Linked DNA regions of Homo sapiens: region 2 is linked to region 1. Evidence: fine-mapped expression QTL. Tissue or cell type: whole blood. Region 1 holds a variant in brackets; the other region holds the start of a gene. All regions are shown on one strand. Distances are from middle to middle.

Evidence for each region. PIP is the estimated chance that this variant, and not a neighbour inherited with it, causes the effect.
Region 2: DKK3 starts here. The variant in region 1 is fine-mapped to the expression of DKK3 in whole blood (TOPMed, PIP above 0.99).

The regions. Positions count from the first base shown.
Region 1 is chr11:11,714,260-11,722,523 of GRCh38, forward strand. No RefSeq gene overlaps it. Among named protein-coding and RNA genes, the nearest start is that of MIR4299, 62 kb to the left of the region's middle. RefSeq lists an enhancer at 2,524-3,723. The variant A/T (reference allele first, on the strand shown) is at 4,564.
Region 2 is chr11:12,004,046-12,012,309 of GRCh38, forward strand. It overlaps DKK3 (dickkopf Wnt signaling pathway inhibitor 3), which reads right to left and starts at 4,581. Exons shown (of 7, transcript NM_001018057.2): 1 at 4,325-4,581. The coding sequence starts at 4,537. RefSeq lists an enhancer at 2,833-3,768.

The DNA.
Region 1 (8,264 bases):
ATTTTTTGAAGGGTTTTTTGTGTCTCTATCTCCTTCAATTCTGCTCTGATCTTAGTTATTTCTTGCCTTCTGCCAGCTTTTGAATGTGTTTGCTCTCACTTCTCTAGTTCTTTTAATTGTGATGTTAGGGTGTCAATTTTAGATCTTTCCTGCTTTCTCTTGTAGGCATTTAGTGCTATAAATTTCCCTCTACACACTGCTTTAAATATGTCCCAGAGATTCTGGTATGTTGTGTCTTTGTTCTCGTTGGTTTCAAAGAACATCTTTATTTCTGCCTTCATTTCGTTATGTACCCAGTAGTCATTCAGGAGCAGGTTGTTCAGTTTCCATGTAGTTGATCGGTTTTGAGTGAGTTTCTTAATCCTGAGTTCTAGTTTGATTGCACTGTGGTCTGAGAGACAGTTTGTTATAATTTCTGTTCTTTTACATTTACTGAGGAGTGCTTTACTTCCAACTATGTGGTCAATTTTGGAATAAGTGCAGTGTGGTGCTGAGAAGAATGTATATTCTGTTGATTTGGGGTGGAGAGTTCTGTAGATGTCTATTAAGTCCACTTGGTGCAGAGCTGAGTTCAATTCCTCGATATCCTTGTTAACTTTCTGTCTCATTGATCTGTCTAATGTTGACAGTGGGGTGTTAAAGTCTCCCATTATTATTGTGTGGGAGTCTAAGTCTCTTTGTATGTCTCTAAGGACTTGCTTTATGAATCTGGGTGCTCCTGTATTGGGTGCATATATATTTAGGATAGTTAGCTCTTATTGTTGAATTGATCTCTTTATCATTATGTAATGGCCTTGTCTCTTTTGATCTTTTTTGTCTTAAAGTCAGTTTTATCAGAGACTAGGATTGCAACCCCTGCCTTTTTTTGTTTTCCATTTGCTTGGTAGATCTTCCTCCATCCCTTTATTTTGAGCCTATGTGTGTCTCTGCATGTGAGATGGGTTTCCTGAATACAGCACACTGATGGGTCTTGACTCTTTATCCAATTTGCCAGTCTGTGTCTTTTAATTGGGGAATTTAGCCCATTTACATTTAAGTTTAATATTGTTATGTGTCAGTTTGATCCTGTCATTATGATGTTAGCTGGTTATTTTGCTCATTAGTTGATGCAGTTTCTTCCTAGCCTCGATGGTCTTTACAATTTGGAATGTTTTTGCAGTGGCTGGTACCAGTTGTTCCTTTCCATGTTTAGTGCTTCCTTCAGGAGCTCTTGTAGGGCAGACCTGGTGGTGACACAGTCTCTCCGTATTTGCTTGTCTGTAAAGTATTTTATTTCTCCTTCACTTATGAAGGTTAGTTTGGCTGGATATGAAATTCTGGGTTGAAAATTCTTTTCTTTAAGAATGTTGAATATTGGCCCCCACTCTCTTCTGGCTTGTAGAGTTTCTGCGGAGAGATCAGCTGTTTGTCTGATGGGCTTCCTTTTGTGGATAACCTGACCTTTCTCTCTGGCTGCCCTTAACATTTTTTCCTTCATTTCAACTTTGGTGAATCTGACAATTGTGTGTCTTGGAGCTGCTCTTCTTGAGGAGTATCTTTGTGGCGTTCTTCGTATTTCCTGAATTTGAATGTTGGCCTGTCTTGCTAGATTGGGGAAGTTCTCCTTAATAATATCCTGCAGAGTGTTTTCCAACTTGGTTCCATTCTCCCCGTCACTTTCAGGTACACCAATCAGACATAGATTTGGTCTTTTCACATAGTCCCATACTTCTTGCAGGCTTTGTTCGTTTCTTTTTATTCTTTTTTCTCTAAACTTCTCTTCTCACTTCACTTCATTCATTTGATTTTCCATCACTGATACCCTTTCTTCCAGATGATCACATCGGCTACTGAAGCTTGTGCATTTGTCATGTAGTTCTCCTGCCATGGTTTTCAGTTCCATCAGGTCCTTTAAGGACTTCTCTACACTAGTTATTCTAGTTAGCCATTCGTCTAATCTTTTTTCAAGGTTTTTAACTTATTTACCATGGGTTCAAACTTCCTCCTTTAGCTTGGAGAAGTTTGATCATCTGAAGCCTTCTTCTCTCAACTCGTCAAAGTCATTCTCTGTCCAGCTTTGTTCCATTGCTGGTGAGGAGCTGCGTTCCTTTGGAGGAGGAGAGGTGCTCTGATTTTTAGAATTTTCAGTTTTTCTGCTCTGTTTTTACCCCATCTTTGTGGTTTTATCTACTTTTGATCTTTGATGATGGTGAGGTACAGATGGGGTTTTGGTGTGGATGTCCTTTCTGTTTGTTAGTTTTCCTTCTAACAGTCAGGACCCTCAGCTGCAGGTCTGTTGGAGTTTGCCGGAGGTCCACTCCAGACCCTGTTTGCCTGGGTATCAGCAGCGGAGGCTGCAAAACAGCGAATATTGGTGAACAGCAAATGTTGCTGCCTGATCGTTCCTCTGGAAGTTTTGTCTCAGAGGGGTACCCAGCTGTGTGAGGTGTCAGTCTGCCCCTACTTTGGGGTGCCTCCCAGTTAGGCTACTCGGTGGTCCAGGACCCACTTGAGGAGGCAGTCTGTCCATTCTCAGATCTCAAGCTGCATGCTGGGAGAACCACTACTGTCTTCCAAGCTGTCAGACAAGGACATTTAAGTCTGCAGAGGTTTCTGCTGCCCTTTGTTTGGCTATGCCCTGCCCCCAAAGGTGGAGTCTATAGAGGCAGGCAGGTCTCCTTGAGCTATAGTGGGTGGGCTCCACCCAGTTCGAGCTTCCCGGCCGCTTCGTTTACCTGCTCAAGCCTCAGCAATGGTGGGCGCCCCTCCCCCAGCCTTGCTGCCGCCTTGCAGTTTGATCTCAAACTGCTGTGCTAGCAATGAGCGAGGCTCCATGGGCGTAGGACCCTCCAAGCCTTGCACGGGATATAATCTCCTGGTGTGCCATTTGCTAAGACCATCGGAAAAGCTCGTATTAGGGTGGGAGTGACCCAATTTTCAGGTGCCATCTGTCACCCCTTTCTTTGGCTAGGAAAGGGAATTCCCTGACCCCTTGCGATTCCCGGGTGAGGCAATGCCTCACCCTGCTTCGGCTCATGCTTGATGCACTGCACCCACTGTCCTGCACCCACTGTCCGGCACGCCCCAGTGAGATGAACCCAGTACCTCAATTAGAAATGCAGAAATCATCCGTCTTCTGCGTCACTCACGCTGGGAGCTATAGACTGGAGCTGTTCCTATTCAGCCATCTTGGAACTGCCCCAGTACACCAAAATTTAAATGCCAAGACATGTCATAACCTGTCCTCTCATTTCTGTATACCACAGGCATTACGTACATTCTTGGCAATGGATGGTTCTGGCATCTGTTGGTTACTATCAGGCCAAGGGAGTGGCATTAGGTGTGGCTTCAGAGCAAGGCAGAGCTTGAGCCATGAGGCAAGCTCACTGAAATGTACCCAGCGTTTATCAGATTGAACACTCTTTCTGGAAATATCCTCAGGAACAAGGACCATCACGGATTGCACCTTTACTACATACCAGGCACTGGGTCAAGTACCTCATGGTCATTCACACTGATTTCTCACAACTCTTGTGAACAAACTAGAGCATAGAGAAGGTAGGAAACTTGCCCACAGTCACACAGCAACCTTCCAAGAAGGCAGAAACCATGTTGGGTTTTTTTTCCCAAATTTGGATTTCTAAATCCAGTATTCTTTCTACTACATCACAGCTGTGCATTTATTTATAGAAACATAAATAAGATTGCAAAAGAAATGTTTAGCTTAAGAAAGCCAACAGTTTTAAAGAGTCTATAAAATTACTTTAATCTAACCCATCTGTCTACAGAAACTTACTGCATTAATTACGAATGTTGTTACCTGTTCACTTAACAGAGACAAATATGCATAATTGCTACTCACAAAGCTATGTAATGCCAATTGTTTGCATCACCTAGTTTTTCACTGAGAGACAACATTGTGTAGTAGAAAATATAGGAGCTTCGAAGTCAGAGAAATGGGTTCAAATCCTGGCTCTCCTGTGCACCAGCTCTGTTGTTTTGGACAAGCCATTTAACTTCACTGAACCTCAAATTCCTTATATAAAAAGCTGTTATTAACACCAATTTCTGGCTTATTGGAAAGATTAAATGAGGGAATGTATATAAGACACCTAGTACAGTGTCTGGTACCTAGCAGGTGCTAAATAATAGAAAGCTATCACTATTCCTAGGAAATAACCTCACTTCTTAAAAATATCCTCCAATTCAAATATTACTGATGAGCAAGTTCCGCTAAATACAGAAATCTGATAAGCCAGCAAGTCCACTTTCAGGAATCCAGCCTACAGAAACATTCACTTCTACAGACAAAGTTATAAGTGTGTACAATAATATTAATTACAGAATTGTTCATAATATTGGATAACGGAAAACAACTTACATATTCATCAAAAGAAGAATGGCTAAAGAAATTATGATTTATCCATATCAGGGCAAACTTTTTCTCTAAAGAGCCAGAGAGTAAATATTTTAAGGCTTTGTGGGCCATATGGTCTATGTCGTAGCTACTCAGCTCTGCTGTTGTAGCACTAAATCAGCCACATACAACATACAAAAAAATGCATATGACTGCATCTCAAAAAA[A/T]TTTTTTTTTTTTTACAGAAACAGATGGAGGACCAGATCTGACCTCAGGGTTTCACATATATGGCTGAATACGATGCAACCATTTTTTTAAAAATCAAGTACACCTATAGTATCTAGACAGAAAGATATCCACAAGCACTTCTACAAATCATAAGAAAAAGACAAACAATGTGGTAAAAATTGGGGAAGGAATATGAACAAGCCACTCATAAAAGAGGAAATTCACATAAGCAGTTTGAAAAGTTGCTCATCTGTCTAATTGATAAACTTTCCAAAAGCAAACTAAAACAAAAAGATCCTATTTTCATTCATCATATCTGCAAAAACCAAAACACTGACAGAATCAAGTGTTGAGGATACTGTAGAGGAAAAAATACACTTATACACTGTTGGAAGAAATATAAATGAAGACAATCACTTCAGAAGGTTCTTTGGCAGAATCTATTAAACCTGCAAATGTGCTTATCCTGTGACCCAGCATTTCCTAGTCTAGATCCGTACCCAGGGAACCACTTTCACATGCATCCAAGAAGACTGGATAAGAAAGCTATCTGAAGCATTCAAATAGCAAGAAATTGAAAATGACCTAAAGGGACATCAATAATGGAATGGAAAAATATAATGTGGCAGAATGCAATTCAGTGACTAAGAGGACTAAACCAAATCTCTGTTCATAAGTGTAGTTAGATCTCAGAAATACAATGCCAAGTTTTAGAACAATTCTTATAGTATGATACAATGTATGTAAGAACATAGACATAAAAAATAAACAATGCTATCCATTTATTATGGGTGCATGTGTGCAAAGTAAGGTCTGGAAGGATATGCGCTATATTCAAAGAGTAGTTATCTCAAAGCATAGGGAAGACCAGGATTAAAGGTGGTGGTCAAAGGGGACTTTAGCTTTACCTACAATATTCTAACTTTTAAAAAAAATTCATCTATATAACTAAAGTAAATTTAACAAAAAATGTGTTTCTGATATATTATGTAAGCTTCAAAATGACATAATTATATTTATTTTATTTTTAAAATTATTATATGTTTTTTACACACACATGTATGTGTGAGCACATGCACATGTATACTTGTGTCTGGAAGGGTAAATACCAAATAGTTAATAGGATTGCTTGGTCATGGATTGGAATTGAGGGCTAGGAAAGGAGACTTTGCCTTTGTATTATGAGGAAGTATGGTATGGGAGCCCTGCTGGAGCTGAACCAGCTAGGTTCCAATGCCCCCTGTGTCACTTCAGAGCTGCATAGCCATGGGAAAGTCAACCTCCGTTTTCTCCTCTGAAAAATTGGGATATATAATATGGTACTTACTAAGTGCCAGGCACTCTTATAAGTATTTTAGATATATTACCTCATTTCATCCTCACTTCAGCCCTATGAGGTAAGATCATATCCCTATTTTAGAAATGAGGAAACTGAGATACAGAGAGATTAAGTGACTTGCCAAGGTCACCATACCTGAAAGGGGCAGAGCTGGCTCCAGAAACCACAGTCTTACATCATTATCACTACTCTAAGTGTAAGTTCTTGCTATTTCACTTTATGTAACATGTTCAAATATATGTAAGTTTCAAAATCTTTGAATTTTATAACTTAGAATATATATTACATATGTGTGTATGTATATGTAGCATTAGTTTCCTATAGCTGCTATAATAAATTGCCACAAATTTAGGGCTTGAAACAATAAAACTTTATTTTCCACAGTTATGGAGCTCTAAAGGAATCTAAAGCCAAAGTGTTGTCAGGGCTGCATCCCTTCTGGAGGCTTTAAGACAGCATTCATTTCCTTGCTCTTTCCAGCTTCTAGAAGCTGCTTGCATTCCTTGGCTCCTGGTCCCTTCCTCTATCTTCAAAGCACAGTTTCCAACATCTAGTTCAGTCACTATTTTTTCTTTTTCTGACTCAGTCTGCTCCCATTTCTCTCTTGTAAGGGCCTTGTATTATGTTGGGCCTACCCAGATACTCCAGGATAATCTCTCTGTCTCAGGATCCTTAAATTAATCACATTTGCAAATTTCCTTTTTCCATGTAGGGTGACATAGTCACAGATTCCAGGGATTAGGATGTGCACATCTTTGGGGGCCATTGTTCTGTTTACCATGCATGCATGTGTGTGTATGTATGTATGTATATACATACACACCACATATATACAAACACATACTTTAAATATACTTTTTTTTTTTTGAGATGGAGTCTTACTCTGTTGCCCAGGCTGGAGTGCAGTGGTGCGTTCTTAGCTGACTGCAACCTCCACCTCCCGGGTTCAAGTGATTCTTCTGCCTCAGCCTCCTGAGTAGCTGAGACTACAGGTGCCTGTCACCACGCCCAGCTAATTGTTGTATTTTTAGTAGAGATGGGGTTTTGCCATGTTAGCCAGGCTGGTCTTGAACTACTGATCTCAGGTGATCTGCCTGCCTCAGCCTCCCAAACTGTGGGGATTACAGCCATGAGCCACTGTGCCTGGCCTACCTTAAACATCTAATGGAGGAAATTAGATATTGTCCTCTTCCATTTTCTGCTGCTTTGACAGAATATCACAGATCAGGGAATTTATAAAGAAAGGTGATTTATTTGGTTCATGGTTCTGGAGGCTGAGAAGTTCAAAGGCATAGCAACAGCATCTGCTCAGCCATCTGGTGAGGAACTTCTTGCTGCCTCATAACATGGTGGAAGGTCATCACATGGCAAGAAAATGTGCACATGAGACAGAGAGAGGAAATTGGGCCAAACTCATCCTTTTATCGGGGCACACTTCTGAGACAAGTAACCCACTCCTGTGATAACAGCATTAATCCATTTATGAGGGCAGACCCCTCATGACCTAATCACCTTTTAAAGGTCCCACCTTTTAATACGGTCACAATGGCAATTAAATTTCAATATATTTTGAAGGGGACATTCAAGCCATAGCAGATATATTAATCATGACACACATACAAAATGCATACTGATCAATAGTGCATTAGATGAAACTGTATTTCTATACATATATATATATTTTTTGAGACAGAGTCTTACTCTGTCACCTAGCCTGGAGTGCAGTGGCTAAATCACATCTCACCGTAGCCTTGATCTCCTGGTCTCAACCTCCCACCTCAGCTTTCCAAATAGCTGAGACTACAGGCATGTGCCACTGTACCCAGCTAATTTTTGTATTTTTTTGTAGAGACAGGGTCTCACCATTTTGCCCAGGCTGGTGTCAAACTCCTGGGCTCAAGTGATCCCCCACCTCAGCCTCCCAAAATGCTGGGATTATGGGCGTGAGCCACCCACCCAGCCTACTTATACTTTTTTTAATGGCAGGAATCTGAGCTTAAGAAAAAGGAATTGACTGAGCCTCCTGCCCAGAAGATAAGGGGTCCAGGGAGCAGGAGGTTCAGGTGTCATGCCTGCCCACATGGTTGGGAATTACTGATCTAGCCTGATACAGCAGGGTTAGAAAATAAGCAGGGGCTCCGTAGACCGGCAGGTCCCATGGGCCCCCCAGCACAGCACAGTAGATACTTGATTTAAAACTGCAGGATGACTTAAAGAGCACCCTCTCCATATTCCATTGGATCAGACAAACAGATCCAGAGAGAATCAATGGGCTGTTTGTCCAAACTAGCCCCAGGGCTAGGTTTATATCAGTTATAACATGGCTCTCTGACACCTCCTTTCTCAGGCTTTGGCAATGTC
Region 2 (8,264 bases), 290 kb after region 1:
AAGAATAGCCCCCACGTTTGGGGCATTGACTATGTCTGAATCGTTGCACCAGATGCCTTGAATATTGACAGCAACCTTATGGGGAAGCTGTGATTATAGAGTCAGGTCCAAAAGTTTAAAAAATTGAAATATCTGGATCCCTTCATGGACCCGCTGAATTGGGATTTCTAGAGATGAGACCCTGATAATACTGAGCTTCTCAGCTTATTCTGAGGATTTCCCTCCCCTCCCTCTGATCCCCAGTTAAGAATCTCCGTTCCAGGCAATAGGGAACTACAGCAAGTTCCAGAAGGCTAGCGGGAAATAATATAAAGAGTAGATCAGAAAGAGAGGGGAGTCAGGAAACTGGCTAGAATTAGGTCTAGGAGATGGGAGCTACTTCTGGGTAGGGACCTTCTAGGTGGGAAAGACTCTAAGTAAGTCTAGAAGGATCAAGCCACTGAGAGATGGCCACTGGATGAGTCAAGTCATTGCCTGCAGCATCCTCGGAGAGGAACACAGTGGAAAGTACCAGGATTCTGGAGTCAGACAAGGTGGGTTCAAGTCCTGGCTCTGCCACAAAGTAGCTGTATGACTTTAGGCAAGATACCAAATCCCACTAAACCTCAGCTTGCTCATTTGTAAAATAGGGATGTCCTACTTTGTTGAGTAGATATAAGAATTAAGGACCATGCAGTAGATATAAGAATTAAGGCATGAAATACACTATCTGCCACACAGCAAAGATGAAATACACAGCTGTTTTTATCCCGTTGCCCTTTAAGAAGGCAGTTTCAAAAGAAGCCAGTTTGTTTTGCCAGAGTTCTGAAGGGAATGGGTAGCTAGAAGCAGGAAGAGCAAACGTTGATATCATGTGTTTGAAGAGCTTGCCAACAAAGGGGAGAAGAAATGGGGCTGAGATAGAAGACAGAATGGGCAAGAAAATGACTTTCCTTAAAAGCAAGAGACCTTGCCCTCAGTTACCACTCTGGTTAGTGATAGAAAAAAACGCAGCTGGGAAGAGAAGACTGAAGGTGCTGGAGAGGACCCACCCAGAAGAAGAGAATGTTTTAGTGTTTTTAAAATTCCCATCGGGATCAGTTTGGCTTTCAAATAATTGACAAGTTGCCAAACCTAGAATTTGCTCTGGGCTGAGCAGATAGTCTTTTTATAAAACTTTTCCCCCCAGCTCAGCCACTGGTTATTTCAACAGAATGAGCTAACGGTTCTTAAATGGCACCATGAACTAAAAGTATAGTTTACAATGGAAATTTCAACCGCAACTATTATTGCCACTAGCAAGAGAAACTTAAGTCTGAAGCAAAAGGAGCTGTTTCGTAGAGGAGGAATGTGAATGCTATTAAAAATGGCACTTATACTAGAAATAGGTGAGGCAGTAAGAACATTCTAAAATGAGTGAGTTACAGAGCTGGCCATGAGGGGAAGAGAAACAGAGTGGTTATATCTTCAGAATACATTGATTGGTAGCATATAGAATAGTAACACAGGAAAGTAGGAATATCCCAGATTGAAGCCATTTGAAGATATGCTTCTTCCAATAATGACCGTACAAGTAGAGCTGCTTTGTCCTTCCCCTTAAGAAACTTCAACAGCTTGATTCAGCTGGAACATTGAAAATGCCAGGAAGTTACTTGAAAGGAGATTCATGATGCAACTATGTAAACAAATAATGCATCTGGCCCAGGTCCTTTTTGATTTTTCCCCTGAACAATGACTAAATACCAATTATCCTGTGTCTATGAGATTTAAGGGGCATTCTGGCAGTCTCCATAAAAAGTTAATACTAATAACCACAGTCTATAAACAATCTATTGTATTCTATTTTTGAAGATATCTAAAAGATACTTTTAGTATTTTAAGATTAATTTTTAATGGTTTAAGATATTTTAAAAGATAGATTCTATTGAGAATCTATCAGACACTGGTGGTGTTTTGTTATCATTCATACTGCTACTAGTAATATGATGATAATGATACCTGTTACTTATTTACAACCAACCATCATGTCATCCTTACAGCCACCTCACAATGAAGCTACCTGTATTACACGTGTTTTACTTAACCCCATTTTAGGCAGTCAGCGGATGGCCTGCCCTAGAACCACAGGCATCACAAGCTCAATTTAATGTGAAGCTGCAGAATTAAGAGACATTGGGGCCTATATGACTCCCTTCACCCTTTAATTGTTCCATGTCATGATAGTTTCACAATCACAGGAAACAAAGATCATGGATCTTGGGCTCTTGACCTGACCAGTGGATATTCAGGGATAGCTGCCCAACTCACTGATTTGCTTTACTTGCAGCATCTCATTTAATTCTCACCTTACCCTAAGAGGTGGACATTTCTCCACTTCAGACTCGGAACGCCACTGCCAGTAAGTGGCAGAGCAGGGACTGGATGAGGGAAGATCAGTCCCCACTGCCTCTTCTCCTGCCATGGTGTTCAACCTCTCTCATCCTGTACCCACTGCCAGCGAGGACACCTCTGGGAAAGAGTGGGGTAGAAGTGACAGCCCACATCTCCTCTGGTGGCAAACTTCAACCCCCCAACCTACACAGAGCCACATCTAGAGGGAGGAAAGCTGGGGTCTTGGCAAAATCCAGTCTGGATAACGCCCATGGAGAAGACCCCGTCACTAGGTCCTGCAGGGCCCCACACTGCTCTGCTCAAGAAGAGACTGAAGAGGCCCTTGCTGCTCTCTCTCCTCCCTCAGCAGAAGCTAACGTCAGAGGACCACGCTGCAGACTTTCTGAACAGTGGTGGGCACAAAAACATAGAGGTGACTTAGTCAGTCTTACCGGGAATCTGTGTGCAGGAGGGAAAGTCCTAGAACCTGGATAAGGAAAGCAGATGGCCTGCCCTAGAACCAGAGGCATCGCAAACTCCACTTAATTTGAAGCTTCAGAGTTAAGAGACATTGGGGCCTATCTGAATCCCTTCACCCTTTAATTGCTCCATGTCATGATTGTTTTGCAATCACAGGAAACAGAAAGATCATGGGTCTTGGGATCTGGGCCTGTCCAGTGGATATTCAAGGACAGCTGCCCATTTCACTGCCTCCCAAGCCAGTGTCCCCTTCACTGCAAACTCCACAGGCTAACTGTTGTGGAGTGGGAGGGGAAATAGCCCCAAACTACAAAGGGCTGCGGGGAGAAAGCAACTTCCCCCTGGAGACAAGGGCCAGCAGTTAAGGCTTTGCCCAAGGGGGATACCAAGCTGGAGACAGCAGGGATGTGAAGCCAGACCAGGGGCCAACCAGCCTGGACATTGGTTTCCTGCTGCCTCCTTCACTAGGACGGCTGGCTCCTCTCTATAGACACAGGCTACAGACAGATTGGGCCCAACAGCGCCCTCGTCTACCCACCCCAGGCACCAGGGACAGCTCCCCGCACCTGGACAGAGAGGGCTGGGCCAGTGACATCTCCTGCCCAGGTAGCCCTGGGCATGCGTGGGTGACCATCACAGAGGACAGAACAAGATGCCACCCACAGTGTTTAGACCTGGAGGTGATGGAGGGCAGAAGCTAGGCAAAGCTTTGCTAAGGTACGTGGTATCTGATAATAGTTGCTAAATACTGCGCACCTATTATTTGCCAGGTGCCCACACATATGACATTTAGTTTTCACAGGAAACTGAGGTGCAGGATATTAAGTGATTTGCCCAATGTCACCCTGCTACTGAGTGGCAGAGGAGGACCTGAGCCCAGGACAACTGCGAAGCACCGTTGGGTGGAGGGGGTATTGCCTCTCACATCCTCATCCGCCACTCATACAGTGCTGAGATTTAGGATTTCCATCTTCCCTCTCTGCCCCCACATTGCGTGAGAAGCAAGACAGCCCAGACAGACTGCCAGCAAAGCTCAGGGCTCTTTGCCTCTTTGTCCCTGCATGGCATCCTAACAAGCTCAAAGCATAACGGACAAGCTAGAACTTGGCGATGCCTGGAGCTTGTCCCGGGTTTCTGTGAAACCACAGTGCTGGAATACCAGGGGCCCTGCAAACCTCTGCTGACAATAGGGAAGGCCAACGGCATGCCTGACGCCAACTGCAGGCAGGTGGTGGCCCCAGCTACCTAGGGAGGGTCCAGTGCAGAGCCTCTCGGTGGACAGGCTCAGATCCAGACTTTTTGGCAAGGAGGCAAAACGAGGCGGGAGTAGGGATCACCGTGCGCTGCCTCCAGGTCACTCCGCATCTGCTGTCGGCCCTTCCCAGGCCCTGCGCGGGACCCGAGGTCCCTGGCCAGCGCTCTTCCATGCCTTCCCAGACTTCGCTGCCCCCAGTCTGGCGCTTCTCAGAGCCCCGCGCCGCCAGGGCGCACCCACCTCTTCCACCGCGCTGCGCAATTTGTGCTGCGTGTCCTCCATCAGTTCCTCAACCTCGCGGAACATCTCATTGAGGGTGGCCTCCTCCTGCGGGTAGCTGAGAGCCGGGCCGGGCTTGACTGGAGCCGAGGTCGCCGTCGGAGCGGGCGCGGGGGCCGTGGGGACCGCCGCCGCCAGCAGCAGGCACAGCAGGGTGGCCCCAAGCCGCTGCATCTCCGCTCTGCGCCCGCAGCCGCCGCCTGTGTGTCCCGGAACGCGATCAGAGGCGCGCGGACCACCCCCCTCGCTGGGCCCGCCGCCCCGCCCCGTTCCGCCCCGCCGCCCGCCCCTGGCGCCCCTCTTTCCCGCACCCGCCCGGAGACGGGAGGAAACCGAGGCCCCTGAAAACGCAGCTCCCCTACACCCGAAAAGACGCGACCCCACCCGCTCCAGCCCGAGCCCCGATCGCCCCAGGACCCCGCACCCCCATCCTCGAGCACAAGCTGAGCTCTGCTCCTCACCTGTGATGCTGGAGCCCTCGCCAGAGCAACCGAACCCGGATCCTCTACGCTAATAGCTCCCAAGCCCCAGCTCACCTAGACTCTGTCCCCGGTTCAAACCCTAGCCCCTCCTCGACCAGGTCAGAGTGCCCGACCCCCACTTCCACCTCAAGCCTCTCTCAGCCCCTACCTGGGGTGGACCAAGCACAGGTCAGCCCCCTCCCCTTGGCGTCGGGTCCTACTCGAGCGCCCCGCCCCACATCCACCAAGAGAGGCTGAGCTCAGCAGAGTCGTCCCCTCCCCCGCCGCCGCCCCTCACCCACCCCGACTGGACCGAGTTGCGCTGCGGGCCGGACTGGATCTGCTCGCTCCCGCCGGGAGGCCGCCGGGCTGCGGGTGCAGATGCGGGAGCGGCGCGGTGGGCGGGCCGCGGGTGCGGGAGCGCGGCGGGGTGCGGCAGCGCCGGTACCCGAGGGAGCCCGCAAGACGCGCCCCGCCCGCCCACCAGGCTCCCTCTCCGCCCCCGCCCCGAGCCCCGCCCGCCCACCAGGCCCACCCCGCCCCGCGGAGGGGCCGCAGCCCGGCCATTGGCCAGCCGGGGCGCCGGCCACCTCACGCCCCACGCCCCACGCCCTCCTCTTCTGCCTCAGCGACCAGCTCTACCGAAGGCAGCCATCTCCTTCACTGCCTGCCCCTGCGCCCGCGGCATCCCAGGCCCGTCTTCTCTGGCCTCCAGGCTTGCAACAGCCCACCGAGGTTGGGGGTAGGGGGAATGTTCCTCAGTCCCACCTTGGTCTTTCCAAGCCAACCTCTGTCCTGTGAAATCCTCAGGAAAAATCCCAGCCCCCAGCCTGGCATTCAAGCCATCACCGCTGGCCTTAGTCTGCCGTGATTGACACCGTGCTCCAGCCAGGATAACGCACTTGCAGCTCCTGGAATGGGAGAACGTCATGAGAAAGTCAGCAAGCTCCTCAAGGGTGGCATAGAGGAGTGGTCAGGACCAGACACCTGCAGCCAGCTCTGCTCCTTCCTAACTTCCCGCCCTGGCGAAGTTACCAGATTTGTATGCGTCCCAGTTAGCCCTAATATAAAACTTTGACAAGTCTCAAAAACGTAATAAGGAGTGGGTAGTGGAGAATCAGAGAAGTTAGACGATCAGGCCAAACAGCAGGTGAAGGCAGGGATGGCCAGAGGTCCTGAGTGTAGCTGACTGCTCTCCAGCTTGAAACCCCAAGACTGCCTTTCTCTGCAGCACTCCCCACATTACTGTTTACCGCCAAAACAGCCGCTTTCCCTTCTACTTCTGGGCCTGGGGCAGGGCCCTCCTGAACTGCAAGGAAAGCCCCATTCCCCGGCATCTCCTGCTCTGTCCCCTGGGCATCTGGAAGCCCTGGTTGAGCATTCATTAGCTTTCTGGGGGTGGCTGAGCCCGTCCAGGAACCTGGAGCTGAGTCTCCACATGCCCCCGCTTGTCACTTCGGGCAGAGTGGACATTAGGAAGAAACTAATGCCGAACTGGAGGGTGCTGTGGGGGCATATTGTGGGGCCGAGCTAGGAAATGCAGTGCTGCGGGTTTACAGAGCACATCATGCTCTTCCAGTCCTTCATGTTGCTGGCTTAAAGACCAGGAATTTCCCCAGCTGAGATTGTCTTCTGCCTTACACCTTCTACCATGCGGTCTGGAGGTCTTGACTTTCAGAGTCAACCTAAAAATCTCTCTATATCGAACTGCCCCAAGTGTCAGGCAAAGGGACGCTTGTTTTCTTGTGTGGAGTCTACATTTTGTATTCCCAAATGTAATAATTTATCAGTAGTTCAATTATTAGGTTAAACTACAAACGAAAAAAAGAAAGGAAAGAAAAGAAGGAAAGAAAGAGAGAAAGAGAAAGAGAGAAAGAAAGAAAAGAAAGAAAGAAAGAAAGAAAGAAAGAAAGAAAGAAAGAAAGAAAGAAAGAAAGAAAGAAAGAAAGGGAGAGAGAAGAAACGGTAAGAAAATCTACAGGTCTCAAATATAAGTGGTCTTCCTGCCCAGCTCCATGCCAGTCCGCGCACCAGCCTGAGACATTCATGGGCTCGAAGGAAAAGCCCTGGGGCCAGCTGTAGAGATGAGCCCAAACCAGATCTGGACAAGGAGTGTCAGCTCCAAAGAACTCAGACTGGGGAGCCCAGTGGGGTCGGGGACTTGTTGGAGAAAGGGCCAGTCTGGATGGCCATTGTGAGGTGAGGGGCACAGAGCAGGCAGAGAGTGCAGAGCCATCCAGGACAATCATAGGTAGAGTAGAGAACATTCTACATTTCCACAATTCCCATTGTGTCACTGGCTAAGCTCTGTATCCACTGGGAACAGTTGATTTTTTCTTTTAAGTCATTGGAAACACATTCTGGAATTATTATTTAAAATTTTAGGTTCTCACATTTTCTCTATGAGGGAGCTCCCAAGTCATAAACTGGGGACCCATTTCATGGTTGAGGAAATGGCAGCAAAGCGGATATAACTGGCTGAAAATTGCCTAGAAAGTGGCCACACAGCAATTTCACAATTAGCTGTCCACCCTCCAGAAACTCATGACCATGTGCAAAAGAAGACATGTATAAAGATGTTTACTGAGGCAGTATCTATAATGGCAAAAAATGTGGAAACTACTTGCTGGTGTTTTCCAGCAGGAGAATGGATAGACCGGGGCTTCTACAATAATAGAATACTGTACAGCAGGTAGAATAATGAACAATATTTATAGGCAGCAACATCACCAACTCTCAAAAATATAATATGAGGTGGAAAAGGCAATTTGCGAAAAGACATATATGGGATACGATTTGTGCATATCTTAGAAAAACAGAACAATAGCATTCATTGTTTATGGATTCTCACATATAATAAAAATATAGAAATGTGCAGGCTGCCTCTGAGGTGGGAGGCAAGGAAGGGATGGAGGATGTCTTCAGTTGTATTGATAACATTTTATTTCTTCAAGAAAGGGAGTGTACCAGCATGGAGGAATTCTGAAACAGAAGTGTCCAAATATTCGCATCTGTTTAATCAACCATGATGATTACTTACATCAGGATATATGGGTGTGGCTGGTTCTTTTTATTATTTTTGGTATATTTAAAATATTTTGTGAATAAATTGGTAAATAAAAGCAGAAGGCACCATCCCATCCTCCAAACAAAACAAAACAAAAACAACTCAAAAAAACCTCTTGTAGTCAAGTAGACTTTTTTCTTATATCTGTTCTTGGCAAAATGCTGACCTCCCCAAGGCCCAGCAGTGGCCCCCTTTACTGTGAGGTGAGGAGGGGTATCCACACCAGGCTGGAGTAGAGGTATCACATTATCTGACTTCAAACAATACTACAAGCCTATGGTAACCAAAACAGCATGGTACTGGTACAAAAATAAACACATAGATCAATGGAATGAATAAAGAACCCATAAATGAAGACACACACCTATAGCCA